2 separate regions of the Homo sapiens genome follow, and region 2 is linked to region 1. Evidence: fine-mapped expression QTL. A gene starts in region 1. The other region holds a variant in brackets. All regions are shown on one strand. Distances are between the middles of the regions.

What was found. PIP is the estimated chance that this variant, and not a neighbour inherited with it, causes the effect.
Region 2: its variant is fine-mapped to the expression of KIAA1671 in CD4 T cells (CEDAR, PIP 0.95).

The regions. Positions count from the first base shown.
Region 1 is chr22:24,945,876-24,958,233 of GRCh38, forward strand. It overlaps KIAA1671, which reads left to right and starts at 6,841. Exons shown (of 13, transcript NM_001145206.2): 1 at 6,841-6,897. It overlaps LHFPL7 (LHFPL tetraspan subfamily member 7), which reads right to left and starts at 819. Exons shown (of 4, transcript NM_001388199.1): 1 at 697-819. RefSeq lists a silencer at 6,658-6,907.
Region 2 is chr22:25,023,622-25,035,979 of GRCh38, forward strand. KIAA1671 reads left to right here. Exons shown (of 13, transcript NM_001145206.2): 2 at 2,012-2,163; 3 at 4,324-5,919; 4 at 8,988-9,075. The coding sequence starts at 4,379. Among named protein-coding and RNA genes, the nearest start is that of KIAA1671, 77 kb to the left of the region's middle. RefSeq lists an enhancer at 2,327-3,526. The variant A/G (reference allele first, on the strand shown) is at 6,459.

The DNA.
Region 1 (12,358 bases):
TATTCCAGCATCTGTCACAGATTGGCTGTGCCACCTAGGACAAATTATGTAACGGCTCTGAGCCTCAGGTTCCCCATCTACAAAAGGAAGGTCTGTGGGACTTAACCCTTTGATGCATTCCTTTGAAGATATGATTTAAAACTATGGATGTTGGCCAGGTGTGGTGGCTCACACCTATAATCCCAGCACTTTGCAAGGCCAAGGCGGGAGGATCACGTGAGGTCAGGAGTTCGAGACCAGCCTGGCCAATATGGCAAAACCCTGTCTCTACTAAAAATACAAAACTTAGCTGGGCATGGTGGCGGGTGCCTGTAATCCCAGCTATTCGGGAGGCTGAGGCAAGAGAATCACTTGAACCCGGAAGGCGGAGGTTGCAGTGAGCCGAGATCACACCACTGCACTCCAGCCTGGGCGACAGAGCAAGACTGTCTCAAAAAAAGAAAAACAAAAAAACAAAACCCCAGAAAACAAAACTATGGATGTTTCCACGTGCACTCTCACATAAGCAAGCATGCACACATGAGCGCACATGCACCCACCCACCCACCCACACACACACACACACACAATTGTATGTCATTTCAGAGGCTCATGGGCCCCCTGAAGCCTGTAACAGCCCCTGAACGTGCTTTGTGCTATCCCAGTTTCCTTCCCTCCTCACTCCTCACCTCAGGTCACTTGTCCCTCCAGACTCACCACACTTTAGGTCAAGACCCTCCAGCGTGGCCACCTCTGCTCAGGCTCCGGCTTTGGATCCACGTCTGTGACCTTATACAATTCTCCTCTCCTTTGAAGGAATAATTTAGCTTGTAGAACAATGCAAGGGCATGCTTGATGAACTGGTCTGAGGGTGTGTCTGTGTGTGTGTGTGTGGTTTTTCCTTCCCACTTCCTTAAATAAAAGCTTTCACTCCAGGCTGCTGGGTGGGCTGAGCAAAGAGGGGAAAGCCATCTCCAGGTGGGGACAAGGGGAGAGTATAGTGTTTTCTGGGTAGGGCAAGGCACCAATAGGGATTAACTGATCTATGATTAAACGCCAGGTGTAGGAAACCACAGATAGAATCTCAGGAGGAGAAATGGGATTGGGAGTTTAGAAGTGGCTGCCACTGTGTTCTCTACCTTTCTGCCCTCATAATTCCAGCCCAGGCAACTGATATGCATATTTCTGTGTATTTCTCATAGGATCTTCCCTGTGAGCTGTGGACGTCTCAAAGTCAGGCACTGTGTCTTAAATATCTTTATCCTTACCACAAAACTTGGCACAGAGTAGGTGCTGGTATTCTTTTTTTTTTTTTTTTGAGACAGAGTCTCACTGTGTCGCCCAGGCTGGAGTGCAGTGGTGCGATCTCGGCTCACTGCAAGCTCTGTCTCCTGGGTTCACGCCATTCTCCTGCCTCAGCCTCCTGAGTAGCTGTGACTACAGGCTCCTGCCACCATGCCCAGCTAATTTTTTGTATTTTTTTTTTTTTTTTTTTTTTTAGTAGAGACAGGGTTTCACCTTGTTGGCCAAGATGATCTCGATCTCCTGACCTTGTGATCTGCCCACCTCGGCCTCCCAAAGTGGTGGGATTACAAGCGTGAGCCACCGCGCCTGGCCTGGTATTCTTTTGCTATAAGTGATGGAAGCACCACTCAAATAGACATGAGAAATGTATTGGTTCACGTAACTGAAAATTCTCTGGGATGGGCTTCAGGCATAGTGGGATCCAGGTAAATAAGCAATGTCTTCAGAACCCCTCTCTCTCTCCAGCTCTCAGTTCTGTTTTCTGCTCAGTTGGCTTCACTCTCTAGGTGGATTCCCTCTAACAATATTGCCCTTTGGTGGCTCCAGGCTGACATTCCGAGACTCAGCAACCCCAGAGAAAAGAAAGCTTCTCTTTGCACACTATTGCAGCAAGTGCTGTGATTAACACTCAATGGACAAACTTGGGTCCCATGCCTACCACGAATCAATCACTGTGGCCAGGCAAATGGGATGCTCTGATTGGCCAGACCTACATCCTGTGTCCTAGGGTTGGGGGTTAAGGTTTGGAAAGTGAGGATCAAGTAAGGGTGTCGCGAGGCTTACCGCCCTTGAAACGACATGGACTGAGTGTAGCGGGTGGGATTCTTCCCTGGAGGAAAACGGAGATGCTGTTGGCAGAGGGGAGATGGCTGCTAGGAAGGTGAGAACAAAAGACATCGTCTCGGTGCACAGGAAATGCGAGCTTTTCCCTGTAGATTAACGAATGAGCACCTGGCAGTTGGTATTGCCAGAAGCAGGAGGTTCCCAGCCAGTTAGAGGCAGAAAATCTCAGTGAAGCCGTGTCTCAGGCTTCATTCAAGTCCCAGCTCTGCCGCCTCAGTCAGTGTGACCTGAGTTGGGGCATCACTGCCTCCTTGGCCTCAGTTTCTCTACCTGTAAAATGAGGGCGTCTGGAGTGGTGGCTGCCTGGGTTTTTTCCCCAGTCACTCATTCAATCATTCATATATTCATTTTTCCCCTTTCAATCAATATGTGTTGAAGGGCACTGGAGTTAGCCTAAACTGGATTTGGATTTCAGTTGTGATGTTTACTCGCTGTATCAGGCTTGACTGATGCACCTTCTCAGGTGTGCTCAGCTGCGTCCTTCCCAGCCAGCCAGCAGCTCTGGACAAGATCAAGCCTCCTCTTGCTTCCGCCTGCAGGCGGCTTGGGTCAGTTGCTGCATCTACTTAGCCACCTAGGCCTGCATCTCCCGCTGTCATTCAAGCAGACCTGACCTGCTTCAAGGGAGGGAGCCCTGGACCCTCCTCTTCTAGGCTCAGGTGAAGCCCTGTGTATGGAATTGGCTTCCCTTGGGGCTGTCTGGAGGCACAGATAACACAGTTGGGCCCAACAGTGACTAATCGTGGACAGAGGATGGGAGGCGCCAGCCGATGAAGTCCTCGCGCTTCCTTCATTCCTTCCATGGTCTGTTTCACGTGGCTTCTGTAGCCAGCCTAGTAAGGCATGTCTTATATTTGCTCTCCCTCCTCCCTTGCCTTGAAGTCCCCTTCCCTTCACCCTTACTGAGCTGGAATTTTATCCCTAATAAAGCATTAGTACATAAAATTTTCCTTGGGCTCTGTTTTCCAGGGAGCCAGGCTGAAATACTAGCTGTGTGACCTTGGGCAACTTACTTAACCTCTCTGAGCTTCAGATCCTTCATCTGTAAAAGGTAGATAATAATAGAGCATCTCAGCGGGGCACAGTGGCTCATACTTGTAACCCTAGCACTTTGGGAGATTGATGTGGGTGAATCGCTTGAACAAGGAGTTCAAAACCAGCCTGGGCAACATGGCAAAATCCCATCTCTACAAAAACACAAAAATTAGCCAAGCATGGTAGCGCATGCCTGTAGTCCCAGCTGCTCGGGAGCCTGAGGCGGGAGGATGGCTTGAGCCCAGGAGGGCGAGGCTGTGTAGTGAGCCAAGATTGTGCTACTGCACTCCAGCCTGGACGACAGAGCGGGACTGTCTCGAAAAAAATTAAGTAATAATAATAATAGAGCACGTCTTATAGGTTGTTGTGGAGTTTAATGAGATAGCACAGGCAAAATATTTGGCTGAATAAATGATAGCCTTCATTAGTATCATTACCGTGAACCAAACGCTGGATTCCAGCATGTGAAAACATTTATGCAACATTGAACTTCATGAATATTTATTGGGTGACAACTCTGTTTCAGGTACTATGCTAGTCTCTTCCCACAAGGACCTCACAGCCTAGAAAGTGAGTGAAAAGTAATTGGGCAATTACACTACAGTGTGATCAGAACTTTAATGAGTGCGGGCACCAGCCCCAGATTCTGCAACATCTAATCAGTTTTGGTGGTTGGGGATGGCTTCTTAGAGGAACTGATGTAGAAGCTAAGATCTGAGGGACATTTAGTTGTTAACTAGATGATGGGGAGGCAGAGGGCAAAGACTTCCTGGTGGGGGTAATGGCATGGGCATAGGACTAGTGTTGAGGGAAAACATTTCAAAGAACATACCGGCTCTCACACTCAACATGCAGATAAATTTTAGGAAAAACAAAATGGATAAATATGCACCAACGAAAATGCATGAACATGGTCTTTGCAAGGGGTGTGTGGGGTGTAGAGCTATACTGTCCAATATGGTAGCCAGGGCCACGTGTGGATTTTAAAATTTATACTAATTAAAATTAAATAAAATGTAAAACTTAGTTCCTCAGTCTCCCTGACCTCATTTTAAGTGCTCAATAGTCATCTGTGGCTAATGTTGGACAGTGCAGATATAGAACATCTCCATCGTTGCAGAAAGTTCTATTGGACAGAGCTGACACAGGCTAATCAGGACCTTCTGGAGGAGGGGACAAAAGACTGCGAAGAAAGGGTTCTGGGAAAATCCCTGGGAAGCACTGTGCTCTATTCTTAGAAAAAGAAAAGCCAGGGCTGGGAGTGGTGAGGTTGGGGGAGGGAGGGGTGTTGCCTCCGGAAACTGTACTACCTGACACCTCTTTGGTCAGGGTCTACCTCTGGGTATGTGCGAGCTGGCATCTCTCACCTAGGCGGGAAGACACAGGAATGCAGGGGGAACCAGCTAAGGTGGGGGCTGACCAGGAAGTCCTGCCCCTTCTGGGTCCAGGTTCAGGAGGACTCTGGGAGTTGTAGTTCAGCACCTCTGGAATCCCCTTAAAGCTTGACAGGGATAGAAGAGCTGACACCCGGTCTGGGCTGGGCATCTCTTGGGGCAGAGAGTAGGGTTGATGGTCAGGGCTGGGGACGTGTCTGGGTTTGAGTCTCCATGGGGGGTGGCAGGAGGAGGACTATCTTGTCCCCTCCCATCCTTATGTTCTGGAATGGAGAGGCGATGCCAAGGTGGAAGCCTGCATTGGCTGGGGAGCTGAGAAACATGGAACATTCCATTGAACAGAACCCCCAGCCTACGCATTCTGGTTCATGGAGATTTGCCCAGGAGAGACAGGAAGTTCCCATAAGGTTAGGGAGGAGGGGCAGCAGATGGCATGTCATCAGCTGTTGGTCATTCATGCACTCAGCATACATTCTTTGAGCACCTATTGTGTGCCAAGCCCTGTTCTAGGCACTGGGAATCGGAGGTGAAAGACAGACAGAAGTCCCTTCCTCCAGGAGGTCTAGAGAGAAGAGCAGACAATCAACGATTTTCCTTTGCTGGTATAACATACACGTCATGTAAAGGCCTGACTTACGTGGATTTTGAAGGATTTTAAGTTTCAACCCAGCCGTTCCTGGTCTCCTACTCACAGACTTCTCTCTGGAAGTGGTAGTTGTCTGTAAAAGCAACTGGGTTTGATCCTTTTGATGACTGTACTCAAGATACCCAGATGATAAGGAGAATGTCTTGAGACATGAGACCTCATGGGACCTCTGCCCCCCAATTCCTGGGTTCCAGCACTGTACACAAGTCAGTTGGGGGTTCTCGGGCTGCTGTTTGGTAAACAGGGTTTACCCTGCCTGGGTCTGATGGTGATGATCAGACCTTCAAAAGGGTTGCAGTGCAAACGGTGTGGAGAACAGGAGCTACCCTTGTTTCTTACACACACCCAACAATTTAAGAGCAAAATGAGGCAAGAAGTCTCCCCACCAATCCTCCTGAAGCCACACAATGTGATGTCTTTTTCTTTTTTTTTTTTTTGAGATGGAGTCTTGCTCTGTCGTCCAGGCTGGAGTGCAGTGGCGCGCTCTTGGCTCACTGCAATCTCCACCTCCCGGGTTCAAGCCATTCTCCTGCCTTAGCCTCCCGAGTAGCTGGGATCACAGGCATCCGCCACCACGCCCAGCTAATTTTTGTAATTTTTAGTAGTGACGAGGTTTCACCACGTTGGCCAGGCTGGTCTCAAACTCATGACCTCAGGTGATCCACCCGCCTCGGCCTCCCAAAATGCTGGGATTACAAGCCACCGTGCGCAGCCTGTGATGTCCTTTTCTTTCTCTTTTTTTATTGAGGTCTATCTTGCTTATAATAAAGGCACATTGATTTTAGGTCCTCCAGTTATTCATGCTCTGTACATTTCCCATAGGAGCACATGTCACAGATTCAATTTGATATACTCGTGAAATTATTTGTTTGAATATCTGTAAGCTGCACAACAGCCTGGATTTTGCCAGCTGCCCACCACTGGGTTCTCCAGCACCCAGCATGCAATAGGTGCTTAATAAAGATCTGCTGAATGAAATGAGTAACGGATAACAGAACAGGTATTTTCTCTTTCAGAGGCGACTTCCTACGATTCTCTCAACTTGTCCACAAGTTCCTGTACCCATTACCCCACAACTCACACCCACAACATAATGGCAGGAGGATGCGCACACAGTAGGCGCTCCAGCGAACTCTCAGGTGCAGTGCCCTTGCTTGGCGCGAGGAGGCGCCAGCACCGCGCACAGACCTTGCCCGCCCCCGGGCCGGCACCAGCAGCCCAGGCAAGTCAGTGGGCCCACATTTATGGAGCGCCTCCTGAAATCCTGGGTTGCATTAGGCTCTCGGGGTCGCCGGCTGGGCAGCGGGTCGGTGCCGGTGGCGGGGGATCCTGGCTGGTGACTGGGGAACATCCAGGGAACGCGGGAGGGTACCCGGAGCAAAGTTCCCAATTGGACAGAGCGGGGTCGGGCCTCGAGGGGCGGGAGCGCTTCCGGCAGGGGTGTCCAAGCGAGTCGTGACCTCTGACCCGCCGGAGAGGTCCCAGGCCCAGGCGCCACTGCGGACTCGGGTCCTGCCTGCTCTGCTCCCCTCCGCGCAGGCGCGGCCGGCGGCAGTTCCCATGGTGACGGGGGCGCGTCCCCGCTCGAGGCCCCGCCCCCAGCAGGCTAGGCTGCGCGGGGCTGCGGGCTCCCAGGGCAGGTGCCGCGGGCTGCGGGCAGGTGGCGGCGCGGCGCGGGCTGGCGGTGGCTCCACGGTAGGTTGCGCAGCGGCTGCGGGCAGTGGGGGCCGGCTGGCCGCCTCCTGTCCCCGGCCGACGAGGTAGCTGGGGGTGACGGCGGCTGGCGAGGGCCGCCAAGTTTCTGCCCGGCCGAGGCCCCGGGAGAAAAGTTGGCAAAGTTGGCCGGGGAAGAGGCGGGGAGCCGGAGGATTTCCCCAGACTCCGGGTCTGCAGGGAGGGAGGATCCCGGTTTGGGAGCCGGGGAATCCGTCTCCCGAGACTTGAGAGTGGATCCCGCGGGAAGATCCCGCACAGGGCAACCAATGGATCACGTGCCACCTGGTTGGCGACTTGGGAGTCGATCCCTGGAGGGGATCGGGCGCTGGAGGCCTGGGGTCCCACTGGATCCCCAGTCAGGGGTGACGGCGAAGGGTGATTCGAGACTGGGAGCGAGAGGATCAATCTCCTCCCATGCCAGCCTGAGCCTTGGGAATGGATTCAGAGAGATCCCGTGGCTAGGAGCTGAGGGATCGCTGGAGATCTGGGTTACTCAGCCTGGAGCTGCTAGGGTCTGGACATTTGTGCGGGTTGGAGGCCCCGGAGGTGGAAGTGGGAAGCAAGGGCGGCGAGCGAGACGGAACCCTGGTCGAGGGGAGCCCGGAGGACAGCGCGGTGGTTCGGGGGGCGTGAGAGGGGCGGCGCGCGGGGCCCCTCGGACGCGGAGGCTCCGGACACGTCCTCTCGGCCTGGCCTGCGCCCCCCCTCCGCTCGTCTTCCCAGGGCGGAGGCGCCCTGATGGGATTAAGCCTCAGTCCCCCTGTTACCAGGCAGGCCCGCGTGGTCCCCGCCCCGATGGCGGCGCGGCCCACCCGGGCTCACGGGTGGGGCCCTCGGGATGGGAAGCGGCTCGTTGACCCCCACCCGAGCCTGACCTTTTCACACCCTGCTGGCACAAACTCGCCTGGGAGTGGGGACGCCGCGCCTTAAAACCCTGCTGTTTGTCCAGTCCCGGAGCAGGCGTGTGACCTCCACCGCGCGACGCCTAGGTGGCTAGGGCTTCCTGCCTGCCGGGACTGAACTTTCTCTAGCCAGGAGCAGCCATTATCTTTTGGAAGGGAAAGGACTGTACCTGTTGCACAAAGAAAAACACTTTCTTTGCACCTTTTTTGTGACCTTGGGCAAAACACTTAACCTATCTGAATCCAGATGGGGACCCTCTGGGCAAAATGGGCTTGGCCTAGGATGGATCGGAATGAAGGGTATGAAACAGGTAGGGGCTCTATAAGTATCAGTGCCTCCCTCAGTCTATGGCCTCTCCTTTCCCGTGCCCCATCCCCTGTGCTTGCCTTACAGTATCTAAAGATTCCAGAAACCCTACTTGCTATCTTTTGAAACCGCAGGATTAGAGAGCTATTTAGCTTAACCTTTCTTCCAAATGGGTTAATTGCCCCTCTGATCCCCCCTTGCAGAGAGAAGCTCTGAGGTTTGGCTAATGAGTAACCAAGACATTTGGACAAAGCTTCTCCCTTGGTCTGGCTTTCCCTCTGCTAATCCATCAAGGTTCCTGGACAAACGTGTGCACCCCCAGACTCTGGCGCCTCCTTCCTTCCTGTTGCAGCCAGGGACAGTTCCCGAGGAATTTGTACAGACACAAGCCCAGATCTTGGTGGTTCTGGCAGGGGGATCCTTTTTAAAGGATTTGCATGCTTGACAAGGGTGCAATTACCCAAGAGAAGTGCAGAGTTTCAATGCAGTGTCTGGACATACATTTCAGCTGGGCACATGAACTGGCTGGCTCCATCAACCAGCGTGTATTGAGCACCTATGTCAGGAGCACTGTAGAAATGGTGTGGCCTAGGGCAACTCAGGATTTGTCCTCTTGGAGTTACTTTCCAGCTATGGAGCAGTCGGCTTGCCCTGCAGTCTAGTACTGATTCTTGATGTTGGGGATACAGTTCTCACCCTAGGTTCAGAGGCTGGAAGCTGCCCCTACCCCCACTGGAGGTCCTAGGGGCTGCTTTTTTTCGTTTGTTTTGTTTTGTTTTGTTTTATTTTGTTTTTTGAGATGGAGTCTCGCTCTGCAGCCCAGGCTAGAGTGCAATGGCGCGATCTCGGCTCACTGCGACCTCTGCCTCCCGGGTTCAAGCAATTCTCCGGCCTCAGCCTCCAGAGTGGCTGGGATTACAGATGCCCGCCACTCTGCCCGGCTAATTTTTGTATTTTTAGTAGAGATAGGGTTTCACCATGTTGGCCAGGCTGATCCCAAACTCCTAACCTTAGGTGATCCTCCTGCCTCCGCCTCCCAAAGTGCTAGGATTACAGGCATGAGCCACTGCGCCTGGCCGGGGCTGTTTTTTATTGAAGGCTGACCTTGGCAGGAGAATGAAGGAGCCAGTTGTCTGGCTCTGAGCATTTCTCCTCACCAGGCTACATCTCTGACCAACTCAGAAACAGAGCCTCACAGGGATATTTTATATGTGCATTCATTCATTTATTTATCATTTGTTCCTTCAACAAATATTTCAAGACACTGTGTCAAAGATGAGGCTAGCAGCCACATCCTTAAGGGGATACTTTATGCCCTGAAAGTCTTTGTGAACATATGCATTTGTCTGGAAGGGGAGAACTATGATCATAGGAGGAGGGGCTGATGCCTTTGGCTATAAGGAGGGATGCGGGTCAGAGAGTTTAGTTTTCTCGACAGCCAGTGGGAAGAGGTTGGTGTTATGGGCTGCAGAAATGGAATAGCTTGTGCAGAAGCCTGGAGGTAGGTGAGTGCCTAGGGTGTTGACTGGGGCCAGGCCAGCCATGCTTAGTGGTTTGGACTTTATTCCTGGAGCGTGGGGCGCTGTGGATCACAGTGGAAGGGTCTCTGCAGGTGAGGGGCAGGGTCAGATGTGTGTTTTGGGAAGCTTGCCCTGGCTGGTGTGGGGAGGCTGGATGATCGGAGGGTCATGCCAGGAGGCTGGGGGCCAGTAAGCAGGCTGCTAGAAAAATCCAGGTGAGAGGCCAGGCGCGGTGGCTCACGCCTGTAATCCCAGCACTTTGGGAGGCCAAGGCAGGACGATCACGAGGTCAGGAGATCGAGACCATCCTGGCTAACATGGTGAAACCCCATCTCTACTAAAAATACAAAAAAATTAGCCAGGCATGGGGCAGGTGCCTGTTCTCCTGGCTACTTGGGAGGCTGAGGCAGGAGAATGGCATGAACCGGGGAGGCGGAGCTTGCAGTGAAGCAAGATCATGCCACTGCACTCCAGCCTGGGCGACAGAGTGAGACTCCGTCTCAAAAAAAAAAAAAAAAAAGAAAAGAAAAAAGAAAAATCCTGGTGAGAGACCGCGGTGCGCGGTGGACTGGACGTAGAGACCAATGGTGTTGGAGGGGTGTTCACTGACAACTTTGACATTGATCAGTGTTACATTTAGAGAGCCACTCACTTTGAAGATCCCTTCCTCAAGGTGGGTGTAACAGTCTACCTGGGGTAAGGAAACCCCTCAGAGGGAGTGGTATCAGTACTGAATTCAGTTTAGCAAACCTGCTTTAGAACCCTGTGCCTGTTCAGGGGTAGGTATAAAACATGCCAGTCCTCAAGGACTTCCTGTGGGGAGACATGGGGCACATTATTCCCATTTCACTGATGCAGGCCTCTGTGGCATTGTGAGGCGTTTGCCAGGCAGCAGTGGCAAAGCAGGAATTTGAACTCCCTTCCAACTTGCAACTAGTGAATATTTGGGTTCAGGTTAAGCCGTAGAGAAGCAACAGAGGAAGGTGGGTTTCAGTTGGGTGTGGAAGGGATAAATTGAAGGAGCCTTCCCGGAGGAGGCAGATAGAAGGGAGGGAGCCAGCCAGCCGGGCGTGGTGGCTCACGCCTGTAATCCCAGCACTTTGAGAGGCCGAGGCGGATGGATCACGAGATCAGGAGATCGAGACCATCCTGGCTAACACGGTGAAACCCCGTGTCTACTAAAAATACGAAAACAAAAAATTAGCCGGGCGTGGTGGCGGGTGCCTGTAGTCCCAGCTACCTGGGAGGCTGAGGCAGGAGAATGGCGTGAACTGGCGAGGCGGAGCTTACAGTGAGCCGAGATAGTGCCACTGCACTCCAGCCTGGGCGAGAGAGCGAGACTCTGTCTCAAAAAAAAAAAAAAAAAGAAGGGAGGGAGGGAATCAGCCAGAGATAGTCCAGGGCAAACCCTGGCCCTGCCTGCTCCTGGCTGTGGCCTTGGGCATGGTTATGGTTTTGAGACTCGACTTCCCTATCTGTAAAAAGGGCTCATGATAGGATACTCCCATTCTCAAAAGGTTCTTATGTGAGTTTACTGAAGCAGTGTATGGACAGTGCTAGGCCCCGTGTCTATGCTCTGTAAGGGGTGGTATGATTATTATCACTATAGCCTGTCATCAGGATAAGTTCCAGGTGGGTGGTGCTTTGCTCAACCTGGTGTGTGCCTGTGTGTGTTGGGGGGAGAGAGGGAGTGACCCACAGGTGATACTTGAGTCTTAAAGGATGAGTAGGAGGGAGGGCTGGGACATTCCAGGCAGAAGCAACAGCACTGGCAAAGGCATAGATCGCCTGGAGAACTGCATGCCAACTGATATACCCAGAATTCAGGATGTGCTGAATGAATAAAAGTTAGACCATGGGCAGCAAAAATTCCTTTTATACCCCAGACACTCCCTGAATTTCTAAACCTGAAGGCTTTGGCAGGTTTGGGACAGAGAGGAGGGCAGGAGCATCCCTGTCCAGGAGTTCACTCTCCTTCTTCCACTCACCCATCCAGATTATAGGAGTGTGAACCTAGATAAGCCATGTCCCCCCGGGACCTCAGTTTCTTCCTCTGTAAAATGGGAGGACTGGGGAGAATGTAGGTAAAGCACATAGTGCATCAGAGCTGCGCTGTTATGCCAGAATCTGGGCTAAGCTCTTTTGTTCCTTTTTTTTTTTTTTTTTTTTTTTGAGACGGAGTTTTGCTCTTATTGCCCATGCTGGAGTGCAATGGCAGGATCTCGGCTTACTGCAGCCTCCACCTCCTGGGTTCAAGTGATTCTCCTATCTCAGCCTCCCGAGTAGCTGGGATTACAGGCATGTGCCACCACGCCTGGCTAATTTTGTTATTTTTATTAGAGACAGGGTTTCTCCATGTTGGTCAGGCTGGTCTCGAACTCTCGACCTCATGTGATCCACCCACCTCGGCCTCCCAAAGTGCTGGGATTACAGGCACCCGGCCTTTTTTTTTTTTTTTTTTTTTAATATTTTACAACAAACCCAGGTGGTGCCTGTTTTTGAGACCCTCGACTTTACAGTTCATGAAACTGAGGCTTCAAGAGGTTATTGATGTGCTGCGAGGTCACGCAGCGGGAAAGTGGAAGAGCTGGGATTTGAACCCAAAGCTGTCTGCCTCAAAGCCATGCCCTTCCCACTTGCATGGCTCCCAACACAAGGAGGGGTGCTTCTGCCTAGTCTCACTACTCAAACTGCTGCCATTTAAGAAGAAG
Region 2 (12,358 bases), 78 kb after region 1:
TAAAATATTACGGAGCCATCTACTATGGTGGTTTAAAAACTCCTTTTACTAGGCCGGGTGCGGTGGCTCAATCCCAGCACTTTGGAAGGCCGAGGCGGGCGGATCACAAAGTCAGGATTTCAAGACCAGCCTGGCCAACATAGTGAAACCCCGTCTCTACCAAAAATATAAAAATCAGGCAGGTGTGGTGGCATGCACCTGTAGTCCCAGCTACTCAGGAGGCTGAGGCGGGAGAATTGCTCGAACCTGGGAGGCAGAGGTTGCAGTGAGCTGAGATCACGCCATTGCACTCCAGCCTGGGTGACAGAGTGAAACTCTGTTTCAAAAAAAAAAAATCCCAAAAAACTCCTTTTACTTTTCTTTGTTCATTGATTTATTAATTCATTCATTGACTCATTTGTGCAACTGTGTTTACATATCAGACATCTGCTAGGCATTTGCAATGGTAACTTGAGAGGCAGTTCAAGATACAAAGCAGATGACGGGTCACAGAGGCACTGTTTGGTGTAGAGGAGCGTGGACCAAGGGACTTAATTTATCTTGTCCTTCTCCTTTTACTTCCATGCAGTATAGTCCCTGAGGTGGGTTCAAGGTTCCCAAAGTGGGGTGACATTTGTGTACCATTGATCCTAATTCAGCAAACAGTTGCTCTTGGTGACTCTTTTCCCAGGAAAATCCATGCAGAGAAGCATTCATTCCACATTTGGGCAGGTGAGCTGGTGTGACAGTGTGAGGTTAATGTGGATGTAGCAGGTGCCTGCCCTCGGGGTGGAGCTCCTCTGTGTGGCCCAGTGAAACTGATAGAGGTCTTTGGGTGAGGGTTGGTAGATTGAGCCTCTGGCTTGTGAAACTGATAGGGGTCCCTGGGTGAGGATTGGTGGATTGAGCCTCTGGCTGAGCACTTCACAGCTTTTTGATTCTGTCATTCAGTAGCCACAGCCACAGCTAGAGTAACTCATCTTATGTCCCAGATTGCTTAGAGTCATTTGGCATGAGACTCATGGTATCTGGACTTATTTAGCATCTTAGAGAGTGGGCAGCAGGGGCAGAAGAATATTTCTTCATTCATTTACTTATTAACTCAGCAATGATTTATTTCTCTATTCAGTAATCATGTATCTGGTGCTTTTATGTGCCAGGCTGCTGTGCTAGCCACTAGGGATTTGGGGTGTCCTCTGGCGGGGCTTACCATTGAATGGGAGAGGCTGATGTGAAGGATGATGTCGTATTAAATGTAACAGTGTAGCTATGCTAAGTCCTGCCAAGCCTCCGAGTGTATGTGGTGCTCTGTGAACAGGTAGGAGGGGGTTGTACCGGGTTGAAGGGAGACAGAGATGTGTGAACTGTGGTCTGTGTCTGTGTGTGAGCAAGATGGTTGTCCCAGAGAACAGGCATAGCATGTGCAAAGGCCCTGAGGAGGCATTTGGAGGGCTTCAAAGAGGTACAATGTCCAAATACCGCTAATGTAGCTACCAAGTGAAGCACATCACTTGGTAGCAGCTACCAAGTGAAGCACATCACTTGGTAGCAGCTACCAAGTGAGTCAGCACCTCGAATGCTCAGTAGCTACCTCCTCTAAGTCAAGTGAGTTATGCAGGACCACCAGTTCCAATTCTAGGCAATCAGTCCTATTTGCCCCCACATCCTGCATTTAAAAAGTGACATTTGTTACCCAGTTGTAATTGCTTGTGTGTGTATGTGTGTTTCTTACAGAAGACTGTGAGTTGCATGGTTGCAGGGGATGTTTCATGCTCATCTTTGTACACACCGTAGGTGCTTAATAAATGTATCAGAGAACAGGGAAGATTTTTATTGAGCACGTACTGTGGGCTCAGCACTATTTATGCACACGTACATATAAGGCTACAAAATCGAAAAGCCAAAAGGAGCATACGTTTTACAAGCTGGAGTAGATGCCAGCGGATGCATTTGGAGCTTGAAAGCTTTTGTGCCGTCTGTTCCCATACTGCCAGAACTCCGGAACTGAGGCTGTCATCCTGTGTCTCCTTAGACCTGCTGAAACTCAGCCTGCTGGGACGAGTCTTCTTTCCCCCTTCTTGTTTCTGCCATGGAAGTGTGTGGACAGCCCCATTCATGATGACATGTGACACTACTGGCTTTTCCCGGCAGTCACACCCCCTGACCCAGGGCCTGCCAGCTTGGGTAAGTGGGGCCCATGCTTGACCCAAGCTTGAGGGCTGGAGTGTCCAAGGGCATGGAGAGTGCCTGTGAGTTCTGCCAGAGAATTTTCTCTCTGTCCTTTGAATCCTGTCATTGTTCTGTGTCTCATGTCCTGGCTATTACATATGTATCCTCAATCAGGGTTTCCAGAGGTCACAGCTGCTCTCCCAAAAGGCCAATGGCCCTGATTCTGGGTGGGATTCTGGAGCCTTAGAACTCTGGTTGGGATCTTTGTGTATGGAAATTCTCCAATTCTCAGATTCTTCATATCTGTCCCTCCATTCTACCTCTAACCGTGTCTAGACAGTGTTCTCCAGTTTGGGGAGATGGAATCTGTTAGCACCATCGAGCGTGTAAGGAAGAGAAAATATCAAAATCTGTCTGCCTTTCTTTCCTGGAGGCTGCTGAGTGAGTCAGAGCCGGGGGAGCAGTGTGGGGCCCCAAGGAAGGGAAGTGGAGAGGCTTGTGTTTAACTAAAATACCTTCTACTTTTTTAGTCCATCTAGGTGGGGGCTGGCTGGGGGCAGTTTCACAGGGAAGAAAACACTGGCATGAAGAGAGCCTGGGGGATCGAGAACAGCAACTTACCTGGCACTTTTTAAGACCAGAAAGGAATAAAAAATAATTTTTAAAAAGACAGAGCTGAGGCTGGGTGTGGTGGCTCAAGCCTGTAATCTCAGCACTTTGGGAGGCTGAGGTGGGCGGATCCCCTGAGGTCAGGAGTTCGAGACCAGCCTGGCCAACATGGAGAAACCCCACCTCTACTAAAACCACAAAATTACCTGGGCGTGGTGGCACATGCCTGTAATCCCAGCTACTCCGGAAGCTGAGGCAGGAGAATGGCTTGAACCTGGGAGGCAGAAGTTGCTGTGAGCCAAGGTCGCGCCATTGCACTCCAGCCTGGGCAGCAAGAGTGAAACTTGGTCTCAAAAAAAAAAAAAGACAGAGCTAAGTGGGTGGTGGACTTGAGGTTAGGTTTCAGCTGGGTGATCGTAGGCAAGTCTGGCGACCTCTCTGGGCCCTTTCCCTTCATCTCCATGAGGGAGATAACGATCATTCCTTCATTCTTGACTTTTGGAGTTGCTGGAGGGTTAATGAGAGAGGAGGTCCCCTGCTTTGCGAAAACAGATCTCATAGCAGGGTGAACAAGAGGCTTATGCCCCAAGCTACTACAAAATGGGGTCTCCTAATTGTACCCACTAAATAGGGTTGTGAGGAGGATGAGATGTATAAAACACAAGAAGCATGTGGCATAGCTCGAGATCTCACTCATGGGAAGACCTCACTGTTGGGCGTTTCTCTTTCTATTAAGAGTATGAAGGCAGTCAGCATAATATGCGTGTTCAACAGAAAAGAACCACAAAGCAAACAAATAATGAAAGCAGGTTGAGTGAGAAAAATGAGAATGGCTTCTTTTTATGGCATCTGGAAGGGTGGGGGAGGGGAAAGAAAAGGGACAAAGGGATGATTGGGTGGGGTTGGTGCCTAGGGCATGGGTTCCAAGGTCACTAACCAGCTTTGTGCTCCCAGGCACTCCTGAGCTGCATTGCTGTGTGACCTGCAGCAGGTTACTTGCCTTCTCTGTGCTAGATGCTTAGCACACACTTGTGATTAGGATCACCTGGGATGTGGGCAGGCTCTGCAGTGGGAAAACAGGGTAACAGGAGTGAGGGAATGTGAGGACGCTCCCACTGAGGCCTATTCAGGGAGGAGCATGTGTGGTGTGAATTTGGTGTCAAACCTGGTTTTAAGTCCTGACTTCGCCTCTTGCTTCCTGGGTGACTCCAGTTACTTGGCCTCTCTGAGCTGGTTTCCTTATCTGTGTAGCAGAGATCACTGCTTTTTGCCATTAAGTGCTGGCCTCTAGATTAGCTGTCAGGGGAAAGTCCTCCAGAGTGTTGATGCCTTTTCTACACCCTTGGAGCTGGAACGAACTTCAGGGATGGGCGTTTAGTCCACTCCCCTCGTCCAGAGCTCAGAGACGGGGAGAGGCAGGCCCAAGCCTGCCGGGTGAGGTCAGCAGAGGGCTGTCGTATGGAATCTGGGGCTCAGGACTCTGTCCCATTTCTCTAAACCATTCTGCTTCAACCCAGACACTGACTGTTTTCCAAATTTACTTGTTTGTTTGTTTTGTTTGTTTAGCAATTGCTTCTCCATTCTTGAAGTTCCTAACCCCCATGAATCCACAACCATAACCATGGCCACGCGGGTCGAGGTGGGCTCCATAACGCCCTTGACGGCCGTGCCAGGCCTGGGTGAGATGGGCAAGGAGGAGACCCTGACGAGGACCTACTTCCTCCAGGCCGGCGAAGCCTCTGGGGCTCCCCCAGCCCGGATCTTGGAAGCGAAGAGCCCCCTGCGGAGCCCGGCCCGGTTACTCCCTCTGCCAAGGCTCGCCCCCAAACCCTTCTCGAAGGAGCAGGACGTGAAATCTCCTGTCCCGTCTCTGCGGCCCAGTTCGACTGGACCTTCCCCCTCTGGGGGGCTCTCTGAGGAGCCAGCAGCAAAGGATCTGGACAACAGGATGCCCGGCTTGGTGGGGCAGGAGGTGGGCAGTGGGGAGGGCCCGAGGACGAGCTCGCCCCTCTTCAACAAGGCTGTGTTCCTGCGGCCCAGCTCCAGCACCATGATTCTCTTCGAAACCACCAAAAGCGGCCCCGCTCTGGGGAAGGCGGTTAGTGAGGGGGCGGAGGAGGCCAAGCTAGGTGTGTCCGGCTCCCGGCCTGAGGTGGCTGCCAAGCCCGCCCTGCCCACCCAGAAGCCTGCGGGGACCCTTCCCCGGTCAGCTCCCCTGTCTCAGGACACAAAACCACCTGTACCCCAAGAGGAGGCAGGCCAAGACCATCCTCCCTCAAAGGCCAGCAGTGTGGAGGACACGGCACGCCCCCTTGTGGAGCCCAGGCCTCGCCTGAAGAGAAGGCCCGTGTCTGCCATTTTCACGGAGTCCATTCAGCCTCAGAAGCCAGGCCCCGGCGCAGCGGCCACAGTGGGCAAAGTGCCACCCACCCCTCCCGAGAAGACGTGGGTGAGGAAGCCCAGGCCCTTGTCCATGGACCTCACGGCCCGGTTTGAGAACAAAGAGGCCTTGCTGAGGAAGGTGGCCGATGAAGGAAGTGGACCCACAGCAGGGGATATGGCTGGGCTAGAGAGGCCCAGAGCAGCGTCCAAGCTGGACAGGGACTGTTTGGTCAAGGCGGAGGCTCCTCTTCATGATCCTGATTTGGACTTCCTGGAGGTGGCCAAGAAAATCCGTGAACGGAAGGAGAAGATGCTTTCGAAGCCGGAGATGGGCAGCCCCAGAGCCCTGGTGGGGGGCTCATCTGGGGTCACCCCCAGCAATGACCAGAGTCCCTGGGAAGAAAAGGCCAAGCTGGACCCAGAGCCAGAGAAGGCTGCTGAGTCCCCCTCACCCAGGCTGGGAAGGGGCCTAGAACTTGCTGAGGTTAAGAGCAGAGTGGCGGATGGGGAGGCCGCGGCAGGGGGAGAGTGGGCCTCCAGGAGGAGTGTCAGGAAGTGCATCAGCCTGTTTCGGGAGGACAGCACCTTGGCCTTGGCAGTGGGGTCTGAATCTCCCCTGGCCACCCCTGCGTCCCCATCGGCGGCACCAGAGCCGGAGAAAGGGGTTGTGAGCGTTCAGGAACGGATCAGAGGCTGGACTGCCGAGAGCTCAGAGGCTAAGCCCGAGGTCAGGAGGAGGACGTTCCAGGCTCGGCCGCTGTCGGCGGATTTGACCAAATTGTAAGTAGGCACATCCCACACCCCTCTCTCAGCCGCCCACCCACACACCCTGAGGAAGACGGAACCAGGCTCCATGCTGGGCACTTGTCACCCCCCCTCAGTTTACCCATAGCCCAAGAGGAGGTAGTGGCAGTGTCCATTTCTCAGATGAGAAAGGTGAGGTGCGGAGAGGCAGTGCAGCTCTCCTCTGGGTATGGCCAGCCGGGGGGCCCGGAGCCCAATTTTCATGGCTTTTCTCAGCTTCAGATGTAGTGTGTGAGTGAAGTGGGCGGTATGTGCCCATTTCATGGAGGCAGGGCAGAAGGGTGAAATACTGTGGGGAGGTGGGAGCTGGATGGCATTCCAGCTCAGCCTGTCTCCATAGCTAAGCCTTTCTTCCCTGAAGTCAGAGAGAGAACGCTTAAGATTGGGCCTAAGCCTTTATGAGTGGCCCAAAAAATAAACTCAGAGGAGTCAAGGTAACTTGGGCTAGTCAGTTGGTTAATACTGATATTCTACGTCATTTGGTTAATAATGATATTCTAAGTCAGTTCGTTAAT[A/G]CTGATACTCTTAAGTCAGTTGGTTAATAATGATACTCTAAGTCAGTTGGTTAATACCGATGTTGTCAATCAGTTGGTTAATACCGATGTTCTAAGTCAGCTGGTTAATACCGATGTTCTAAGTCATTTGGTTAATAATGATGTTCTAAGTCAGTTGGTTAATAATGATGTTCTAGGCCGGGCGCGGTGGCTCATGCCTGTAATCCCAGCACTTCGGGAGGCCGAGGCGGGTGGATCACAAGGTCAGGAGTTTGAGACCAGCCTGGCCAACATGGTAAAACTCTGTCTCTACTAAAAATACAAAAATTAGCCAGGCGTGGTGGCAGGCGCCTGTAGTCCCAGCTACTCAGGAGGCTGAGGCAGGAGAATCGCTTGAACTCGGGAGGCAGAGGTTGCAGTGAGCCGAGATCACACCACTCCACTCCAGCCTGGACAACAGAGCAAGACTCCGTCTCAAAAAAAAAACACCAAAAAACAAAAACAAAAAAGATATTCTTAGTCATTTGGTTAATACTGATGTTCTAAGTCAGTTGGTTAATACTGATGTTCTAAGTTAGTTAATAATGATATTCTAAGTCAGATGGCTAATAATGATATTCTAAGTCGGTTGGTTAATAATGATATTCTAAACTTGGCCCACTTCCGACATCTCTTCTTTGTTTTCCCACAAGTGGCCACAACAGAGAGATGCCACTCGGCATGATCGACTGGCTCTTAATGGCATGCATGCCACTGACATACTTTGTCCAGGGTGGAGCTTGCAAAGGCAGGATCTCTGGGCAGACTGCCCTCCCGGCCCTGGGAACCAGGACAGCCAGCCAAGCCAAAGCTAGACCACTGGCCCTCAGTACTTTAGAATAACCGGAAAAAATACCAGTGCCTGGGCCCCACCCCTAGAGATTCCGATTCACTTGGTCTGGGGAGGGTGTTCTATTTTGGTAGTTTTTATTTTATTTTTTATTTTTATTTATTTATTTATTTTTGTGACCCAGGCTGGAGTGCAGTGTTGCAATCTCGGCCCACTGCAACCTCCACCTCCCGGGTTCAAGTGATTCTCCTGCCTCAGCCTCCGCAGTAGCTGGGATTACAGGCACGCGCCACCACACCCAGCTAATTTTTTTTTTTTTTTTTTTTTTTGAGACGGAGTCTCGCTCTGCCGCTGAGGCCAGAGCAGTGGCACGATCTTGGCTCGCTGCAAGCTCCGCCTCCCAGGTTCACGCCATTCTCCTGCCTCAGCCTCCCAAGTAGCTGGGACTACAGGCGTCAGCCACCACGCCCAGCTAATTTTTTGCATTTTTAGTAGAGATGAGGTTTCACCGTGTTAGTCAGGATGGTCTCGATCTCCTGACCTCGTGATCCGCCCGCCTCAGCCTTCCAAAGTGCTGGGATTACAGGCGTGAGCCACCACGCCCGGCCTAATTTTTGTATTTTTAGTAGAGACGGGGTTTCACCATGTTAGTCAGGCTGTTCTCGAACTTCTGACCTCATGATCTGCCCGCCTCAGCCTCCCAAAGTGCTGGGATTACAGGCATGAGCCACGGCACCCGGCCTGTATTTTGGTAGTTTTTAAAAGCTTCCAAGTCGATCTTATGTGTAGCCGGGGCTGACAACCCCTGAATTAAGATATCAGAGAAGGACACCTATGCCACGGTCCTAATATGCTTCCTCTCACTATGTCATGGAAGAGCCTTGGAGAGGCCGTGTGATTATCCCCATCTGACAGGTGGGGAAACTGAGGCTCTGAGTTTAGACAGAACTCCTCTCAGCCTCACATATCCCAGGAGACAGACCCTGGGTTGCTGAGTATGGGTTAAGTTTAAGTGGTTTGATTTCTCTCCCTTTCCTTTTCTTCAGTCCCCAGCTTTGAACTAAACACGTGCTACATCTTCAGGTATTTACACCAGAATGCTCTCCAGAGATGGAAAGATTCTAGCTCCACACCCTCTTCCCTTTTTGAGGTGGGGAAAACGAGGCCCAAAGAGGGCCCTGGTGATCCAGAGAGGCAGAGACAGACCTGGGCCCCCACACATTCCCTGACAGCCCACTACCCTTCAGTCTGGGGGCTGCTCTGAGGTGGGGCTGCTGTTTTACCTGGCACTGCTAACAACAGCCATTCATTATCCCTCCTGGGGCATCTTCACTCTTCCCTAAACGCCCTCACGTAGCTATTAGGGCCTTGAGTAGCCTCTTATCTGCCCCATAAAAGGGATGGGGAGGTGTTAATTATCCCTGTTTTATAGATGAAGAAACAGAGGCTCAGGTGAGGTCACAAGCCTAAACCAAGCTCCCCCAGTGAAGAGGCAGTAGAGCTGGGACTAGCACCTGGGTGTCTTCCCCCAGCTGGGGCTCCTCCACCCCAGTAATGCTGTGTTTGAGGTAGGCTCTCCCCACTGGGCAGTTCTCCTTTTGGTAAGTGGAAAGGAAATGTCCTTTCTGAAGGTTACTTGGCCTGGCCTCCTGAGCTGGTGTGTGGGCTGGGGGGAATAACAGCTTCCAGCTCCATGAAGGTAACTCAGATCTCTGTACCAGGTTTTCAAGTTCAGCTTCCAGCAACGAAGTCAAATATGAGAAGAGTGCTGAGCTGAGCGGCGAGTTTCCTAAGGAACCGAGAGAAAAGGTAAGGAGTGGCTGTGTAGCACGTCTCTCATTAACCAGCGGGCAGTTATGGCTGCTGGAGAAAGAGCCTCCATGATCTTCTAGGCCCCAGGAAGACTCAGAAACATGTCATGCACACGATAAAACATTTTTTCTTCTAATGTTGGGACTTTGAAGTCCCTTTTGGCATGAAGAGTTGTGATTCCCTACTCCCAGGTGTTAAATGCTGTTTACAAATGTTATCAGGCATTTTTTTTCTTCGCAAAGAGGCAGAGGGGCATGGCTTTCTTATATAGGAGTGCCTGCTTTGTTAAAATACTAAAATTTAGGTTTAAGATGTTAATAGAAACTCCTTCAAGGTCCTTCATAGTGGTTCTTATTGCCTTCCCCTTACTTACCACCTAGCCATAGAAGGAAGAAGTAGGTGGCTGGGCACAGTGGCTCACATTTGTAATCCCAGCACTTTGGGAGGCTGAGGTGGAGGGAGGATTGCTTGAGCCCAAGAGTTTGAGACCAGCCTGGGCAACATAGTGAGACTCTTATCTCTAAAAGAAAAAAAAAATTTTTTTTAATTAGCCAGATGTGGTTGTGCATGCCTATAGTTCTAGTTAAGGCTGAGGCAGGAGGATTGCTTGAGCTCAGGACTTTGAGGCTGCAGTGAGCCATGATCATGCCACTGCACTCTAGCCTGGGCGACAGAGTGAGACTTGTCTCTAAAAGAATAAAAATGTAAATTAAAACAAAAAGAAGTAGGTTACCAGCAATTAAATTGCTTGAAAAGTATTTTTATTTCATCTTTTTAATAAGAGAAAACTCATAAAATTGTCTCCTAGCGAAAACCGGTTTGTGGTTGATGCTTTCTGCAGAGTCTTAGTTGTTTTTTTGGTTGGTTTGTTTTCGTTTTTTTTTTTTTTTTTTTTTTTTGATGGAGTCTCCCTCTGTCGCTCAGGCTGGAGTGCAGTGATGTGATCTCGGCTCGCTGCAAGCTCCGCCTCCCGGGTTCAAGCAATTCTCCTGCCTCAGCCTCCCAAGTAGCTGGGACTACAGGTGCCCGCCACCATGCCCGGCTTATTTCTTTTGTATTTTTAGTAGAGTTGGGGTTTCACCATGTTAGCCAGGATGGTCTCGATCTCCTGACCTCGTGATCTGCCCGCTTCGGCCTCCCAAAGTGCTGAGATTACAGGTGTGAGCCACCGTGCCTGGCCCAGTTTTTTTAAAAACAGCTTTGAGATACAATTGACATACAGGAAAGAGCACAGATTTAACACATTCAACTTGGTGAGTTTCCTATGTGTGTACAACCTGTGAAACCACCATCACAGTCAGAATAGCGAACATCTCCATCCCAGGCAAAAGGTTCCTCATGCCACTTTGTTTTTTTTTTTTTTTGGAAACGGAGTTTTGCTTGTTGCCCAGGCTAGAGTGCAGTGGTGCGATCTTGGCTCACAGCAACATCCACCTCCCAGGTTCAAGTGATTCTCCTGCCTCAGCCTCCCGAGTAGCTTGGATTACAGGCACCCACTACCACGCCTGGCTAATTTTTGCATTTTTAGTAGAGACGGGGTTTCGCTGTGTTGGCCAGGCTGGTCTTGCACTCCTGACCTCAAGTGATCCACCCACCTCGGCCTCCAAAAGTGCTGGGGTTACAAGTGTGAGCCACCACACCCGGCCACGACGTTGTAATCTCTCCCTTCCCCTGCTCTTCCCAGCCCATCACAGGTCTGCTTTCTGTCCGTGTAGATTAGTTTGCATTTTCTAGACTTTAGTATAAATGGAATCAGTCCTCTTTTTTTTTTTGCCCTTGCTTGTTCACTCAGAGTAATTATGTTGAGATCATTCATGGTGTAGCATGTATCAGTAGTTCATTCCTTTCTGTTGCTGACTAGTATTCTATTTGTGTGAGTAGACCACAATTCGTTTATCCATTCACCTTTTGATGGACAATTGGGTTGTTATCTGTTTGGGGCAATTACCAGTGAAGCTGCTGTGAACATTTGTGGACAAGGCTTTGTAAGAGCTTCTATTTCTTTTCTTTTCTTTTTCTTTTTTAATTTTTTAATTTATTATTATTTTTCATTTTTGAGATGGAGTCTCGCTCTGTTGCCCAGGCTGGAGTGCAATGGCGCGATCTCGGCTCACTGCAAGCTCCGCCTCCTGGGTTCACACCATTCTCCTGCCTCAGCCTCCTGAGTAGCTGGGACTACAGAGGCCCGCCACCACGCCTGGCTAATTTTTTGTATTTTTAGTAGAGATGGGGTTTCACCGTGTTAGCCAGGATGGTCTCCATCTCCTGACCTTGTGAGCCACCTGCCTCGGCCTCCCAAAGTGCTGGGACTACAGGCATAAGCCACTGCGCCTGGCCTTTTTTTTTTTTTTTTTTTCTAATTTTTGAGACAGAGTCTTACTCTGTTGCCTGGGATAGTACAGTCACGTGATCTCAGCCCACTGCAACCTCTGCCTCCTGGGTTCAAGTAATTCTCCTGCCTCAGCCTCCTGAGTAGCTGGGGACTACAGGCACGTGCCTCTATGCCCACTTAATTTTTTGTATTTTTAGTAGAGATGGGGTTTCACCATGTTGGCCAGGCCAGTCTTGAACTCCTGACCTCAGGTGATCTGCCTGCCTTGGCCTCCCAAAATGCTGGGATTATAGGTGTGAGCCACCGCGTCCGGCCAGGACTTCTATTTTCTTTTCTCTTGGGTAAACATCTAGGAGTAGAATGGCTGGATCATATGGTAGATGCATGTTTTATGTTTTAAGAAACTTCCGTGGAGTTTTAAAAATAACACCAGTGCTTGGTTTCAAGCTTGTACCCATCTCAGTACATCACCAACAAAAGTGGGCTGGCTTTGAATGGCAATACCCACCACCACTCTTGGAGGCAGCGGTTTGCCCTGCAAGTTTTATTGTTGCATTTTCTGAATCATTTCTTTGAAAATGGTTAGGAGTGATACCATTTAAGTAATTAAAGCTCCTTATATTTGTATTAAAATGCTGTAGTGACAGCAGCAGCAAGGGCAAAAAGGCTGTGTGTGGCGAGAGTGGCAAAATGTTGATTGTCATTAAATTGGGGGGATGGGTTGGGCAAGTTCATTATTTTCTCTGTAATTTTGTGTATGTTTAAAACTTTAAAGAAAGGAATAGTTAAGAAATAAACCCTTGCTTTACATGTGATGAGATTTTATCTCTATAAGTAGACTTTATGTGTGTGTGTATGTGGGTGTGTTTATTGTAGTAAAATACACATAACAGGCTGGATGTGGTGGCTCATGCCTATAATCCCAGAACTTTAGGAGGCCAAGGTGGG